Regions from separate parts of the Homo sapiens genome. Here region 2 is linked to region 1. A link means that fine-mapping ties the variant in region 1 to the expression of a gene that starts in the linked region. Tissue or cell type: monocytes after LPS. Region 1 holds a variant in brackets; the other region holds the start of a gene. All regions are shown on one strand. Distances are from middle to middle.

Evidence for each region. PIP is the estimated chance that this variant, and not a neighbour inherited with it, causes the effect.
Region 2: it holds the start of PIM1, and the variant in region 1 is fine-mapped to the expression of PIM1 in monocytes after LPS (Fairfax 2014, PIP 0.95).

Annotation. Positions count from the first base shown.
Region 1 is chr6:37,053,208-37,061,373 of GRCh38, reverse strand. No RefSeq gene overlaps it. Among named protein-coding and RNA genes, the nearest start is that of FGD2, 52 kb to the right of the region's middle. RefSeq lists enhancers at 3,144-3,643, 3,644-4,145, 4,193-5,079. The variant G/A (reference allele first, on the strand shown) is at 4,269.
Region 2 is chr6:37,165,696-37,173,861 of GRCh38, reverse strand. It overlaps PIM1 (Pim-1 proto-oncogene, serine/threonine kinase), which reads right to left and starts at 3,710. Exons shown (of 6, transcript NM_002648.4): 1 at 3,205-3,710; 2 at 2,983-3,089; 3 at 2,831-2,881; 4 at 2,371-2,737; 5 at 690-866. The coding sequence starts at 3,286. RefSeq lists silencers at 1,593-1,692, 2,882-3,201, 3,462-4,241 and enhancers at 1,352-1,945, 3,867-4,465.

The DNA of each region.
Region 1 (8,166 bases):
TTTGGTGTCCTGAGACACCTGTTAAGTCGTGCCTACAGGAATTGTAATCCCAGCTGCATGACCTTAAACACATCCCCTGTGCTGCGCTTCCTCATCTGTGAAATAGATATGATAATGATCTTTTTTTTTTTTGAGATGGAGTTTCATTCTTGTTGCCCAGGCTGCAGTCTAACTGGCTCACTGCAGACTCTGCCTCCCGGGTTCAAGCGGTTCTCCTGCCTCAGCCTCCTGAGTAGCTGGGATTACAGGCACGTGCCACCACACCTGGCTATTTTTTTATTTTTAGTAGAGAAGGGGTCTCTCCATGTTGGTCAGGCTGGTTTCAAACTCCCAATCTCAGGTAATCCGCCCGCCTCGGCCTCCCAAAGTGCTAGGATTACAGGTGTGAGCCACTGCACCCGGCCGATAATGATCTCTTTTATCCAGTTACTCCATCAGGAGCACATAGGCTAATGTATGTGAAAATGCTTTATGAGCTGAAAGTGCTTAAATGATATTTTCTGTGAAAATTCATCATGGTTATTTGAAAAGTTGTTTTATTTATTTATTTTAAATTAATATTTATTTATTTATTTATTTATTTGAGACAGAGTTTCGCTCTTGTTGCCGAGGCTGGAGTGCAATGGCGTGATCTCGGCTCACTGCAACCTCCGACTCTCAGGTTCAAGCAATTCTCCCAAGTAGCTGGGACTACAGGCACCTGCCAACTCGCCCGGCTAATTTTTTGTATTTTTAGTAGAGACAGGATTTCACCATGTTGGCTAGGCTGGTCTTGAACTCCTGACCTCAGGAGGTCTGCCTGCCTTGGCCTCCCAAAGTGCTGGGATTACAGGCGTGAGCCACCTTGCCTGGCCTATTTATTTACTTCAAATCAACTAGTTCTTAAGTGTTTGATACCCACTAACTGCATGTGCCCAGCATTGTGCTTAATGCTTCCAGCAAGTCAAGAAATGTAAGATGAGTATGGCTTGTTGCCAAGGAACTTATGCTCAATTTGAGGAAATGGAGCACTCACGTTGAAAGCCCATTTCCTTTCTGTCAATGAGAGGGAGCACTCCGATTCTTGTAAATCAGTTTCTATCACTGGGCCTAGTTTCCTCAGCTGTGAAAAGGAAATGGAGATGCCCGCCTATAATCCCAGCACTTGGGGAGGCCAAGGCAGGAGGAATGTTTGAGCCCAGAAGTTTGAGATCAGCTTGGCCCACATGGTGAAACCCCTTCTCTACAAAAAATACAAAAATTTACCGGGCGTGGCCATGTGCACTTGTGGTCCCGGCTACTTGAGAGGCTGAGGTGGGAGGGTCACTTGAGTCTGGGAGGTCGAGGCTGCCCCTGTCACCAGGCCCTGGTGTGTGAGCCTGACAGGGTGGGGGTAGCCAAGACAGTCCCCTGGCAATGCAGACAACAGCAGGAGAGAATAAGAGCTGTGCTGAGGGTCCTGGCTGAGCCTGAAGGAGCACAGGAGCCGGGAAGTGTTGCTTCCCCCAGTAGCTGGGCCTGGGGGCGCCTTCCTGGGCCAAGTCTTCTCCACAGGGAGCAGGAGGCTCTGCGAGTCAGCCCGCCCTGTCTCTCCTCCTCCTCCAGGCATGCCACCCTCTCCGCACACAGCAGGGTCTGTGGGGGTGGAGGCTTTTTCCAGACATGTATTTAAGTGAGGAGAGAAAACAAGGCGAGTCGCCTAGGATTTGCCAAGTCAGTAGGCAGGAACACAACCCAGGAGGCCAGAAATAAGACGCTGGTGAGGGTCACCCTGCTCTCCGGAGCTGGGGACGGTTTATAGCCCGTGCAGAACGCGTTATAATCACACTTTTGTTTGAGGATGGCCCTTGATCCCCGGGTGTTGTTGCTCTCCTGGTTGGAAGGTAGCAGAGCCCTGATTGTGGGCAGTGAGTAATGGTGACTCAGGGAAATTCACAAGGACACAGGGAACACCCCCAAAGTCATCCAGGGACATGCCCTGGTTCCCCCTGCCGGTCAGGGAGCCAGAAGTTCTGGTCCCCTTTGTAAAGGAGGAATTTCTAAAGTTTTCTCTGGAACTTTGGCAGAATTCTGTAGGACCTTTCAGGGGAAGCATTCGGCTTTGGGAATTTTTGGGGGGGAGATTACTAAAAGTTTTAAGGCTTTGTATCTATTTATGAATTAGCTTCTTTTCTCTCTCTTTTTAAAATTTTTAATTAATTAATTAATTAATTTATTTATTTATTTTGAGACCAGGTTATGAGACTGGCTATTTTTTTTTATTTTTGGTAGAGACACGGTTTCACCATGTTGCCCAGGCTGGTCTCAAACTCCTGGCCTCAAGTGATCAACCCACCTTGGCTTCCCAAAGTGCTGGGATTATAGGCGTGAGCCACCGCACCCGGCTTTCTTTTCTCTTTTAGCTCCTAATTATATTTGTCTCTTAATCTGATTGGGCATTTGTTACCTTGTATGCAAACAATTCTCCAGAAAACAAATTATGACAATAATAATAACAGCTAATGTTTATTCACCCCTTACGACATGCCAGGTACTGGTCTCTCCGTGTATTTTTGTGTTTCATCAAATCTACAGTTCCATCAATCATTAGACATCACGTTATTTGTGTACCACTAAACGATGCTGCCAATTAATCCTTGATATGCCATTGATTTTCAGACTCACCCTGATTTCAGAAATGTTAAAATGGAGATCAATTTTAATCATCTTAGAATCCATGAAATGCAGTAATTAAATCTCAGTTACCATCCTTGCCTTACAGACGGGTAAACTGAGGGACAGAGAGGTTGAGTAAATCTGTCCCAATCTTACCCAGCAAGTATGTAGTGGAGAGGAGAGCCGAACCCAGAGTTGGGCTCCAAAGCCTGTGCTCATAACCGCTGCACTATATTGTGCCTTAGGAAGTCGGATCTGTTCACCGGCAAGACAGGAGGAAGGACACAAAATAACAGAGGGAAAGCTGGACCCACCCTCCACTCCCTTCTCACTATCCCCAGGGCCAGTGGTCACCAGGTCCTGTTGATGTCTCTTCCAAAAACTCTCCCAGATCGTGCTCCTCTTCTTGCTCCCAGCAGCTGACTCGCTGGTTCTATCCTTCCTTGCATCTGCTTGGACTATTGCAATAGCCTCTAAGCTGTTGCCCATCTCCAGCCCCGCCCACTCCCCAACATAGACACTGGAGTCAGAGTCATCTTTCTAAAATGTGAGTCTGATCTTGTTACTCTGCTTGGAAGCATCTGAGGGATCCAAATCCTAGTGCGTGTTTGCTCGCACCTGTGGCAGCCTCTGTTCTAGGCAAACCCCAACATGGTCCAAGCCCTTGTGGAGGCCATGGTCTCACAGAGAAGCAAGACCCCACGGTGGGCAGTTATGATACGATGTGAAACATGCTTCAGTGGGGGGCGTGCTGGGCCCATGGGAGGAGCCCTTGCTCTGGGACCTAAGGGACCACTTCGTAATATCTAAGCCAAGACCGCCAGGATGCATGGGAATTTACCAGGCAAAGGACAGTGAGGATTTCCAGGCAGAAGGAAGAGCAGTGCAAAGACCCAGACTAAAGAGAGATGTTGGAGCATGGACTGTCAGCTGGGGCACAATCCCAGCTGAGGCTGGAAGGACAGTTGCGTGAGGCTGGCTCCTACAGAACGGGCCTCACCTTTCTCTTTCAGCTTAGCTCCTTTCTGCTCCTCTTCCCACCAAATCCCCCTGCAGCAAGTACTTGTGTCCTGAACAGTCTTCCTCCTCTTCACATGTGCTCCACGGGCACCTCACCCCTGCCCAGCAAACTTATCCACCCAGACCCTGCTAGAAGGTAGCCTCCCAGTGAAAACACCCCTGACCCTTGAGTTATCTCTGCAAGCTCCAAGCCGGGCGGAAGAAGACTGAGGCGCTGGTCTCAGGTTCAACTGGGGGATTTGGGAGCATTTTGACAGAAATCAACTGAGAAAAAGCCAAAGTTCCTACAAAGGCCTATAAGACCCCACAAGTCTGCACCACCTCCACCTCTCTGACCCCGTCTTCCGCTATCTGCCCTGTTGCCAGCTTGCTTCAGCTACGTGTCTCCTGGCTATTCCTGAAACCACCCTGACTCCCACTCCCACCCCAGGGCCTTTGCACTCGCTGTTTCCTGGTATAGTTTATTTCTCCCTTATTTGCACAGCTCCCTTCTTTACCTCCACCTTCATCAGATTTTGCTCAAATACCACATTCTCAGAAAGGCCCACCCTGAACACCCTATTTAAAGGCATGGCCCCCATCTCACACTCTTCCTGCCTTTATTTTTCTCCACA[G/A]CACTCACCATCTTCTGCAGCTTATGTGATTCACTTATTTATTTGTTTACTGTCTGACTTTTCCCACAAGAATGTGAGTTCCAAGAGGGCAGGGATTTGGGTCTGCCTGGTTCACTCTGTAGCCCCAGCACCTCGCCCAGTGTCTGGCATACAGTAGGTGCTCAGTAAATATTTGTTAGTCAAATGAATGAATTGTGAGCTCTGACTGTGTGCCTGGTACACTCTGCCCTGGACACCATGGAGGACGGGGAGCTGAGGGAACGAGGTCTCTGCCCCTCAGAGGGTGCCTGCTGAGCTGGTTCCAGCGGGCAGTGGGACAGGTCCCTGACAGCCAGGTGAGTCCAGGTGAATCACCACTAATGAGATGGGGAGGGCCACGCCAAGCGGCTTCCCACACAGGCAGCCGACAGGTCACTGCCTGTCGCCAGGAAACTCCTCAATAAGGATTGAACAGGACCCTGGGCTGGGGCGGAGGAAGTGCCCGCCTCTCCTGGAGACCCCACCCATTCCTGAGGACTGAGTCGGCTCACCTGGGCTCCCCCACCCCCTAGGCCTTGGCAAGATGCTGGTTTCTCAACCTGGCCGAGATTTCCTTCCTAAAAGGAGTTTCGCTCGCTCAGCCCCACGCCCATCCCGGGCAGGACCTGTTTGTCAGCCAGCCCTGTCTGGGTCCCTGAGACTGCAGAGGGAGGACAGCTGAATCTGGAAAACCCTGGGACCTCCCCCGCCCCAGCAGCCCATAGGAGGGTCGGTAGACCAGAGCTTATTCAGGGTATGGACAGACCAATGGGGCTCATTAAACCCAACAAGACAGCGTGGGGTGGCCTCCGTGACCACATTCCACTCACCCCGCCGGAGCCTGGGGCCCACTAGAGTGCCCTGAGCCCAGGCCAAATGACCATCCCAGGGCAGGGCATGGCTGTCTCATCTGCACAATGGGGCAAAGCCTCCTGCCCTGTGGGTGGCTGAGGGCCGGGATGAGATCATGGGTACGCAGAGTAAGGAATGCAGGTGGGCAGCCAGGCCTCCACCCCGCAGCTCAGAAGATGTGGCCGATGTGGCCCATGTCTGGGGAGGAAGCTGTCCAGCCCTTGGCCTACAGTGAACTTGGCCAGTCCAGCACCACCCCCCTCCCTTCCTCTCGGCGGGGGGGCCGGGGGGCACTTGAGGCCCCACCTGGCCCTCCTGCCCCAGAACCCAAATAGCCCCTTGCTGAATTGCCTCACCCCAGCCATCTATGCAGGCCTAAAGTCGCCACCTGTAGTTACTCACATCATACTCATACATCCATAGCTTTCAACAAATGTACTTGGCCAGTCATCAGATGTCCCAGGAGCACTCCTAGCTGCCAGGCACAGGGTAAGACCAACGGACGCAAAGATGGTGGGGCAGGGCCCCATCTCAAGGGGTGCACAGTTTGGGGAGGGTAGTCATAAAAATATAGCTTCCATAAAAGCACCAGCAGGGCCCTGACACACACACACACACACACACACACACACACACACACACACACACACACACAATCTATGAGGCGCTGGAGGGGCTCCTCGGGGGCTCAGAGAAAGGATTGGTTGGCCTGGCAAGGTGAGGTGTCAGGTGGAGCCTCATGGGAGAGCTGCAGCTTGAGCAGGGCTGTCCCTGTGCCTTGCTTTGTCTTTGTCATGTAATCCTCACAACAGCCCTGTGAGGCCAACAGCACAGGGGTCACCATGCCCATGTTATGGGTGAAAAACTAAGGTTCAAAGAGGTGAAGTGACTTGCCCAAGGCCTAATGATGGTGAGTGGCAGGGGTTTATCTGGAATTCCAGTTTCCTGACCCCCATGCAGTGGTCTCTCCTGCCCTGCTGTGAGTTCCTTCCTGTCTTCATGTGTCCATTTGTACAGCGAATCCAACCTGGCTACTTACTAAATGCCAGGCAGTATCTGCGAGCTGGGGACCTTAGAGACAGTAAGGTATCACCCAGGCAGGGGAAGCCACACGCACATACCCAGACAGTGCAATCTCCCATTCAAGTCAACATTCAGCAGATGTACAGTGGAACACCAACTGGGAGCCAGGCGGCACACAGGTGCCAGGGTTGCAGCAGTGAACGAGACAGACAGAGTGCAGTCCTGTGGAGGCTTTCTACTACTAGAGAGGGCAGAGAATAATCGCAGAGTAAGGGAGCACGACGCAGGGTGAGGGAAGAGAGAGGGGCCAGGGCGCTTCTTCAGATGGGCTGATCAGGGAGGGCCTTCCCAAAGCAGATCCTGTTTGCTTATGATTGTTTTGAGATGACAGTTGAGGAGAGGAGCCCTGTGGGTACCTGAGGAAATATGCCAGGCAGGAGTAACGGCAAGTGCAAAGGCCCTGAGGCAGGAATGCACTTGGAGGTGTTCTGAGGAGCATCAGGGAGCTGAGAGGGTGCAGGGGAGTGGCAGGATGTTAGGTGAGGGAGGTGATGGGAGTGCGGGAGGCACAGGTCCTAAAGGCTTTGCGGGTCATAGTGAGGGCTTTGCTTTTACCCCACGTGAACGAGCCACTGGAGGGTTGTGAGCTCAGGGCTGAGCTGATGTAACCTAGGTTTTGAAAGGATCTCTCTGGCTGCTATGGAGAACAGACTCTAAGGGGGTCTTTTTCTTGTCTATGTGTCTGCTTCGTGCATACCGTGGTATCCACTTGACATCGTAGCATAAGCGTTGTCCTTTGATGTTAAAACTCTCAGAAACGGCCGGGCGCGGTGGCTCACGCCCGGGGAGGCAGAGAGTCAAAGAGGGGGCTACTGAGATAACCAGGTGAGAGGTGGGCCAGGGTAGTGGTGGAGAGAGGAGCTGTGGTCACATTCAGGATGTGGAGTTTTTTAAATTAATTCATTTTTTACAGGTGAAGTCTCACTCCGTTGCCCAGGTTGGAGGGCAGTGCATGATCATAGCTCACTGCAGCCTTGAACTCCTGGGTTCAAGCGATCCTCCCTCCTCAGCCTCCTGAGTAGCTGGGACTACAGGTGTGCACCACCATGCCCAGCTGGGGATGTTTTGAAGGTAGCCCCAAATGTACTTGCAGACATCCTGGACATGAGGTATGAAAGAAAGTGAGGGCTGAAGAACAATCCTGGCTCCAAGAGCGGGAGGGCAGCTCTGCCCAGGTCGTGCTTGGCCTGAGGTGCCACATCTTCTACCTGGAGTGTGACGTGGGACATGGCACTCCGCAGGTTGACCAATGTGGAGTTTGGACAGAGTTGGGCCCTTCTTCCCTGCTGGGGGGCTTGGGCCACCTCGTTTAATCTCAGATGTCAGGAATTGGGCTAAGCAGGGTTTTATGTGAGTTGAGCTGAGCAGGCTGTCATCTCCCTCCCACCCTAGGTGGGACCGTCAGCCGGCATATTTTTGGAAAGTATTTTGTCCATATGTATCAAGACTTTTAAACTTTCATGCCCTTTGACCCAGTGAATCCCTTTCAAGGAAGTTCTGCTGGGGAAGCCATCTGAAATGCAGGCAGCACTGATGGATCAAACCCTTCACAGGGGATTATTTAGAATCGCCAAATAAATAAATACACAGCCTGCATGTCCAACAGTAGGGAGTGTTTAAGTCAAGCAGATATAGTCTGGCACCTTGTTGTACTGGATTGTTGTGCTGACCTTAAATTCACGTTTCTGAGAGTTTTTTTTTTTTTTTTTTTTTTTTTTTGACGGAGTCTCACTCTGTCGCCCAGGCTGGAGTGCAGTGGATCTTGGCTCACTGCAAGCTCTGCCTCCCGGGTTCAAGCCATTCTCCTGCCTCAGCCTCCCGAGTAGCGGGGACTACAGGCGCCCGCCACCATGCCTGGCTAGTTTTTTTTGTATTTTTTTAGTAGAGATGGGGTTTCACCGTGGTAGTCAGGATGGTCTCGATCTCCTGACCTTGTGATCCACCC
Region 2 (8,166 bases), 110 kb before region 1:
GCTTCTCAGAGGCCCACAAGTCTGGGGTCCCAGGGAGGCCAAGCATTTTCTAGAACACTGTGCTGGGTACCCTTCAATAGGAAGGTATTGACTAATATCTGGGTCCTCCAGTCTGCTTTCAGCTAAAAACTGACTCCCCTCTTAAACCTGTGGTTTTCAAACTTCAATAGTGGGGGCCTTTCCCACAACACCCACTCACCAGAAATAGGAAGGATGATGACAAGAGATTTTGATGAGACACCACTGAGCATGATGAAATGATTCAATTCACCTACCAACTTACAAACACGAACACCACCCACAGTGAGGTCACTGGTACCAAAATATTTGGAGCTGCTGCCTTAAAGAAGATGCTAAAAGAGCTTTTAACTTTTTACTCCCTGGCAAAACAGCCAGGAATTATCAGGTTTCTGTTGGTACCTTTAAAAAAGTTTTTGGAGAAGCCAGATTGTCTTTTCTTCTTAATATGCTCACACATGCCTTCCTCTGACCTCCCAAGGAAAGCTCAAGTGCAAACCATGTGATTTATGAGGCCAGCTCAAGTGTAAATCACTCACCTACAATTCTAAGCCAAGGGTGACAGAATCTACTGGAGAGTGAAGCTCTCCAGAATTTCAAAGACTGTCCCATGAAGACTAATAGCCCCATTAAGACCAATAACCCCATGGCCAGGGGTTTCCATCAGTTACCTGAAGAGACCCTCTGCCTGAAGAAAACCTGGCCCCTGATGATCTCTTCGTCATGCTCGAAAGGAATATCTCCACACACCATATCATACAGCAGGATCCCCAGGGACCAGACTGCCGCCGACCTGCCATGGTAGCGATGGTAGCGGATCCACTCTGGAGGGCTATACACTCGGGTCCCTGTGAGCCAAGGGAATAGAAGAGAAAACACACTTTTAGCAAAAACAAGCACAAAGAAGCTGGGTGGTATATATAACTCTTTCTTTTAAAAAAAAAAAAAATCCCTTCTCTCAGGAGCTAGGTGAACTCCATTTTTCCCTCTGGGCTAAGGAGAGTGGAGGCGCACCTTACGGCATCTCTCCAACCCAAAGCATTACCCACCTCTCTGCTAGCCCAAACCATAAACTGAAATTCTTTATGAACTGCTCCAAGAAACAAACACAGCTGGCCGCAGACCCAAAACTTGAGGCCCTGTGAGGCAGGACCGCCTGCGAAGGATGAAGGGATGCATGTCTGCACAACCAAGAAAGGTATCTCATAGACTATCCTTAAATTGCATTCACCACTGCCCAGGAGCCCGGGTGAGATTCTCATGGCCGACAGGATCCAAGCAAGGATGCTTGCACAACATCCTAAGTCAGGGTGCCCTTTGGGAGGCCTTCCTCCCCACCCGATGCAAGCAGGAGCAGACACCCACACCCTTTCCTCCCTAGACTGGAAAGGTAGACAGAGCTGCAGGGTTGGTTTCAGACCACGTGATTCCTGTTTACAAACTTTGGGTAGTAAAAGAAAAAGGAGGGGCCATGCCGCTGGTGCTCACCAGGGGGCAGCAAAGACTTGAAAGAAAAAACATGGGAGGACCCGGCCAGCCATTAACTGTTAAATACAAAAAATGCAGCCCAACCCAGCGTCCTCCAAGGGCAAATAAACATAAACCACAAGCCCGAGTCACAAGTTTTGAAAGGCTGTCGTTTGTTAGGTTAAGCCGCTCAGATGATGACCCACCCTCCGCAGCTTTGATCTCAGGCTCTCCATTCCTTCTTTTCTGAAAGAACCCGCTCCAAGCCCCTCCCTAGGATAGGTTTTCATCCTCTCTGCGGAGACACCCAACTAATTTTCAAACCAGCGACAGATCTTATTTCACAACATTCATTCCTGACTCTCTCTCCCCTTAACACTAAAGAAAAAAAAAAGCCACCAGTAATAATATAGTTCCTATTCCTTAACCTTCCCTAGATCAGAAAGGAGTTAAGAACTGCAGCTCTAAAACTACCATACAGAAAACTAACTCCCTTATAAAATAAAACAAAAATTACAAAACCGGCATCAATTTCCACCTCTTCCCCCGCCCCCATCCTTTTACTGGCGGGGAAACTGGGTCAGACTTTAGAAAAATCTGGGCTACCGCCGGTTGCCCACAACCTCTTATTCATCGGGAAAGCCTGGAACTAACTGAATTCCACTTGAAGAATAAAATCATGCCAGAAACATTACAGGTTCAGCTGGCTGAAAATCCCCGGCTTTACTACGCTGGGAGGCTCTCCTGCGTCCCACCCCGGCTAGCATCGAGCCAGGCGGCCCAATGACCTTTACAAAAGGCTGGCGCGGGAGACTGGCCGAGGCCTCCGGACTGGGCCGGGCCGGGCCGAGTCACCTGGGCAGCTCCCTCCCGGGCCTGGCTCACCATCGAAGTCCGTGTAGACGGTGTCCTTGAGCAGCGCCCCCGACCCGAAGTCGATGAGCTTGAGCTCGCCGCGATTGAGGTCGATAAGGATGTTTTCGTCCTTGATGTCGCGGTGGAGCACCCCGCAGTTGTGGCAGTGCCGCACGGCCTCCAGCACCTGCCAGAAGAAGCTGCGGGCCAGCTCCTCTTGCAGGGCTCCCCTTTCCGTGATGAAGTCGAAGAGATCTTGCACCGGCTCGGGCCTCTCCAGGATCAGGACGAAACTGTCGGGCCTCTCGAACCAGTCCAGGAGCCTAATGACGCCGGAGAAACCCGAGCTCACCTTCTTCAGCAGGACCACTTCCATGGGCACTCGAGTGCCATTAGGCTGCAGGGGCGAGGGGGCCGCGTTAGGGCGGGAGTCGGGGGCGCCCCTCACCCCACCCACTCATCCTGGGGGTCGCTCCTGCAGGGCACTCACCAGCTCTCCCCAGTCGGAAATCCGGTCCTTCTCCACGTGTTTGATGGCCACCTGGAAGCCCAGGGTCTCCGTCAGGTTCCCTCGTCCGGGCTAAAGCACGCCCGTGCGCCCCCCGCCCGGCGCGCCCTCCCCACCGCGGGGCGCCCACTCACCGGCAAGTTGTCGGAGACGCGGATGCCTGAGTAGACCGAGCCGAAGCCGCCGCTGCCCAGTAGCGGGCCCACCTGGTACTGCGACTCCAGGGGCTCCTTCTCCTTGCCTAGGAAAGGGGGAAGCACGGGGACTCAGTGCCGGCCCGCGAGCCGCCAGCTCCCCACCCAGGAGATCCCGCCGCCGCCCCGCATCCCCGGGCCGGAGGCGGGGGGTGCTCTCACCGGGCGCCAGCTTGGTGGCGTGCAGGTCGTTGCAGGGCGCGGCGCGCAGGTGGGCAAGCGAGTTGATTTTGGACAAGAGCATCCCAACCTCCAGGATGTCGGCGCAGGGACGGTGCCCAGAGGAGCTGCCGCAGGAGCCGGAGCCGGGGCTGTGCCGAAGGCTATGCCTGGGGCTGTGGCTGTGGCTGTGGCTGCGGGTGGCGTTGCGGCTGTGGCTGCGGCTGGCGCGGAAGGCCGAGGGCGAGTCGGAGGACAACTGAGGGCGCTGCCGGGACTGGCGGCGGGAGGGCGCGCCAGCGGGGTCGGGCAGCGCTGAGAACGGCGGGGTGAGCGGCTCGTGGGGCTCGTGCGGCAGCGCCGCGGGGCAGGAGGCTAGTGGTTGCTGCTGCTGCTGCTGCTGCTGCTGCTGCCGGTCCCGCCGCCGCCGCTGCCACCGACTCCTCTCGGGCCTCCTCAGCCACCGCGGCCGCTGCAGCAGACGCCCGGCTCGCCCCGCAGCCAGGAGTAAAGGGGAGGAGCGCGCCGGCGGGGAGGGCGCGCGGGGAGGGCGCGGCGGGCGGGGACGGGGCGGGGCCTCTCCGGGAGGCCAAGGCGGGGAGCAGGGCTGCCGGGCCGGCCGAGGGAGGAGAGGGGGTGGGGAAGCGGCGGGACTGGGCGACTCCCCTCGGCCCCCGCCCCGCGCGCTCTGTGGCCGCGCCCCGGCCCCGCCCCTGCCAGCGCTACTCCAGCCAACCAGAGGCCGATTGATCTGCATAACTCGGCGCGCCCCGCCCCCGCCCCGCCCAGCTCTCGCGGTCAGAATGGTCTCTACGCCGCCACGACGTGGCGGGAAGGAAAAGGCGCCAAAATGGAGGGGGAGGGGCGCGGGGCGTGAGGGGAGGCGGGAGCTGGGTGTAGGGCCGCGAGGGAGGAAGGATGGGGAGGGGCGTATCGATTCAAACCCAAACAATAACAAAGCCATCAAAGGCCGCCCGAGGCCGGCTCTGCGGCTCTCCGTTTCGCTGAGGGTTTTGGGTCAAGGGCTCGAGCCGGAGCATAACAAGTTGCGCGGAGACGACGGGCGTTAGTGTGTCAGGCGGGGAGGCCGGCGCGCCGGGTGTCGGACTGTGTGTGGGGATGCCGACGAGGGTGGTCTTTCTGTGTGACTCAGACCCGAGACCTCCAAGTCGGCTGGGGCGGGCTGACGTCGCGCTGTAGGCTGGGGGCGGATTCTGGGGGTTTGTGTGTTGGGGGGCGCGTCGGGGGCGAAGGATCCGCAGGACATGAGTCACGGAGGGAGTGGAGGAGTCAGGCCTGGAACAGAACTGGAGGCGGGAGCCCCGCTCCTGCGGGAAAGGGATGCAGCCCTCAGTCGTTCCGGCCGGCTAAAAGCTCAGCCACGGGATTCCCATTTTAGAAATGCAAAAGCACCAGCGAATCCTGATTTCTGGGAAGGGATGTGTGTCAAAGGGCCGGGTAAAGAGGAAATCACGAAGCAAATGTTAGTGTTGTGATGCCAGATGCTGCCTCAGCCCCTTCTGTGAGGGCGGAAAATTCCTCATCTAAAACGAGGGTGGGAGGGTGCGCTTGATTTAACCAGTTTTCACGTTGTAGTCACCTTTTCATCAGCCTGTTATTACCAGGCAGGCAATACCAGCAATTATTGGCCAACCCCAAGTCTTGTCTCAAAGGAAACCCCCCACCCTCTGCCTCCCTTGGAAATAACCCGGAACACTGACCAATTCCACTTGCATCCTTTGTCCTTTTAAACTTCATGTAGAGTTGATAACGACGTGTGAAATGAGTAAATTAAAATACTATATAATCCATAAATTGAATTGTCAGTGGCCTAAGTAATTGAAAGCTAACTACATTCTATTTTAATTTTTTGAAGTGCCTGCCATTTAAAGGAAAAATCAGGATCCCTATAGCTGTCATTAGTGAATTTAAATGTTTCCTTTGAAAGTTTTCTACAGTGCTTGCTTTATAAAAGTGCCCAGATCCTCCACAACTTTTATGAATTTATCCTACAAAATATTACATATTTTCCTTTTGTTTGTGTACTGTGGCCGAACTCATTCATTTTTTATGACTAGGAGAAAACCCAAGGGAACAAGAATTACTCCCTTTTTGCAGATAGGAAAATGAAACATAAATAGGATGGCACAGGGTCATACAGCAGCTAAGAGAGGAGATGAAATGACCCAAATTCACCTCCTGAGTATTCAAAGCTTTCCGCTTATCAGGGTCTAAAACTGTCCTTGGCACCGAACAAGACATCATTAAACATATGTGATTCCCACTTCCATCCCTTCTACCCTCCCTTTCCTTTCTCAAACCCTCAAATGTAGTCAAACAGAACTATTCCCACTTGTTCCCACTCGCCTAGCACTTTACAGACCCTTTGCCTTTGCGGAAGCAATCAACCTGTCCTGGGAGAGCCCTCTCTACCTCTCCACTTTTATTCAAAGCCTTTCCACTCTTTAGGAAACAATTGTAGTTCTACCACAGATTGATGAACAAACTCAGAGCATTGGTTCACTGTCCACTAATCTGACAGTTGGGATTTGTTTTTTTAAATCCTTTTTGTTCATTTACTTTTCCATTATACTTTGTCTTCCTATTCCTTGAATGCCCTTTTTTTTTTTTTTTTTGAGACGGAATCTCGCCCTGTTACCCAGGCTAGAGTGCAATGGCACTATCTCGGCTCACTGCAACCTCCATCTCCCGGGTTCAAACAATTGGTTCTCCTGCCTCAGCCTCCCAAGTAGCTGGGATTACAAGCGCCCGCCACCATGCCCAGCTAATTTTTGTATTTTTAGTAGAGACGGAGTTTCACCATGTTGGCCAGGCTGGTCTCGAACTCCTGACCTTATGATCCGCCTGCCTCGGCCTCCCAAAGTGCTGGGATTACAGGTGTGAACCACCATGCCCAGCCTCCTTGGATTACAGGTGTGAGCCACCATGCCCAGCCTCCCTGAATGCATACTTTATCCAACATTTGTTGATAAAAGAGAAGACTATAATGGATTCTAACAAAAAGGCCATAATTAAAGTCAATTTATACCAAATTTAAATGAATTAAGTGGGCTTCGGGAACATAAAAGTTGGGAGCAAGGGCTTTAAACTAAGTTAGCCTGGTTTCAATTCCGGGATCTGGCAGCTACTAGTTAGGCATTGGTCAAGTTACTTAACCTTATTAAGCTTTAGACAGAATGGAGATAATAACAGCATCTACCTCATAGGGTTGTTGTAAGGAGCAAATAAAACTCTTGTTTGTAAAGCATATAACCCAGTACAGAGTAAACTTCTAATAAATATTAGCAATGATGATGGCAATAATGTTGATCGTGGTTATGATGATGATGTTTTTTAAAACGGCCTTTTTTTTTTTTTTTTTTTTTTTGAGACGGAGTCTCGCTCTGTCTCCCAGGCTGGAGTACAGTGGCGCAATCTTGGCTCACTGCAAGCTCTGCCTCCCAGGTTCACGCCATTCTCCTGCCTCAGCCTCCCGAGTAGCTGGGACTACAGGCGCCTGCCACCACGCCTGGCTAATTTTTTATATTTTTAGTAGAGACGGGGTTTCACCGTGTTAGCCATGGTGGTCCCGATCTCCTGACCTTGTGATCCACCTGCCTTGGCCTCCCAGAGTGCTGGGATTACAGGCGTGAGCCACCGCGCCCAGCCCAAACGGTCTTACACCTAGAAGGTACCAAAGGTAAACTACTGGATTAATAGTTCGATTTTTAACCATTTGGGGAGAGATGTGATTTAAAATAGTTGTTTCTAGTAGATCTTTTAGGCCTTTTAGAAAAAAAAATATGTATCAACTTCAACCTTTTTCACTTTTTCTAGGTCTTTGAAGGACTAAATATTTAATTAGAGCTAAAGTGATTAACATTTAATATATCTACTTTGTATAGTGGGGGCTTCACAGCTGGAAGTTACAAAACATGGACCTTGCTTGGCAAACAGCTTTGATTTACTTAAAACTGCTTTAAAAGATAATTAGTAAACATTCAGATGTGTTGTGGGTCAAAAGTTACTCCTCGAGAGTAGGGAACTTGATGTTTTGATTTATCGAAATATAGTCTTAATAAAATTAGCACTATTTGTGCTATCTCAAAGAATCTAACAAAGAATCAGAAAAATCACCCTAATAATTAAATGACAAGTGCTTTTGGAAGGATAAAAGGCCACAATTATGCTAACAGTTCTCTGGGAAGAGGAGCATTTATTAATATTAATTTGAACAATATCCAAATTAATCCTTAGGTGGTTTTCATATTCTGCCTGATATGGGTTTAATCAAGTCATTGTCAAAGGAATGACTTCATCCAGGGACTATATGCTTATGCAAAAAAAAAAAACAAAAAAACAATGACTTCAGCAAGTTCTGTAGTCACGAAATTTTTTTAAAAAACAAGTTTAGAAGAAAGTTTGAAAGTGATATCGGTACACAATTTTTTAAAGTGTCTGTAAGTCTAGTCAATGCATTTATATAACTAGGATTGTATAACTAAGACTCTATACGCTATTTATAATTAATCAGGTAGAGACGTATTGAATCTGCATCACTCATTTATCTCCTAAAAAAAATTTACTCAGTTTTTTATTTATTTTATTTAGTTTATTTGTTTTTGAGACAGAGTCCCACTCTCGCCCAGGCTGGAGTGCAGTGGCATGATCTCGGGTCACTGCAGCCTCCCCTTCCCGGGTTCAAGCGATTCTCCTGCCTCAGCCTCCCAAGTAGCTGGGATTACAGGCGTCCGCCACAACACCCGACTAATTTTTGTATTTTTAGTAGAGACGGGTTTCATCAGGTTGGCCAGGCTGGTCTCAAACTCCTGACCTCAAGTGATCCGGCGGCCTCAGCCTCCCAAAGTGCTGGGATTACAGGCATGAGCCACCGCGCCTGGCCAGACAGGAAACATTCTAAATTTAAAAAGACCAGGCATGGTGGCTCACGCCTGTAATCCCAGC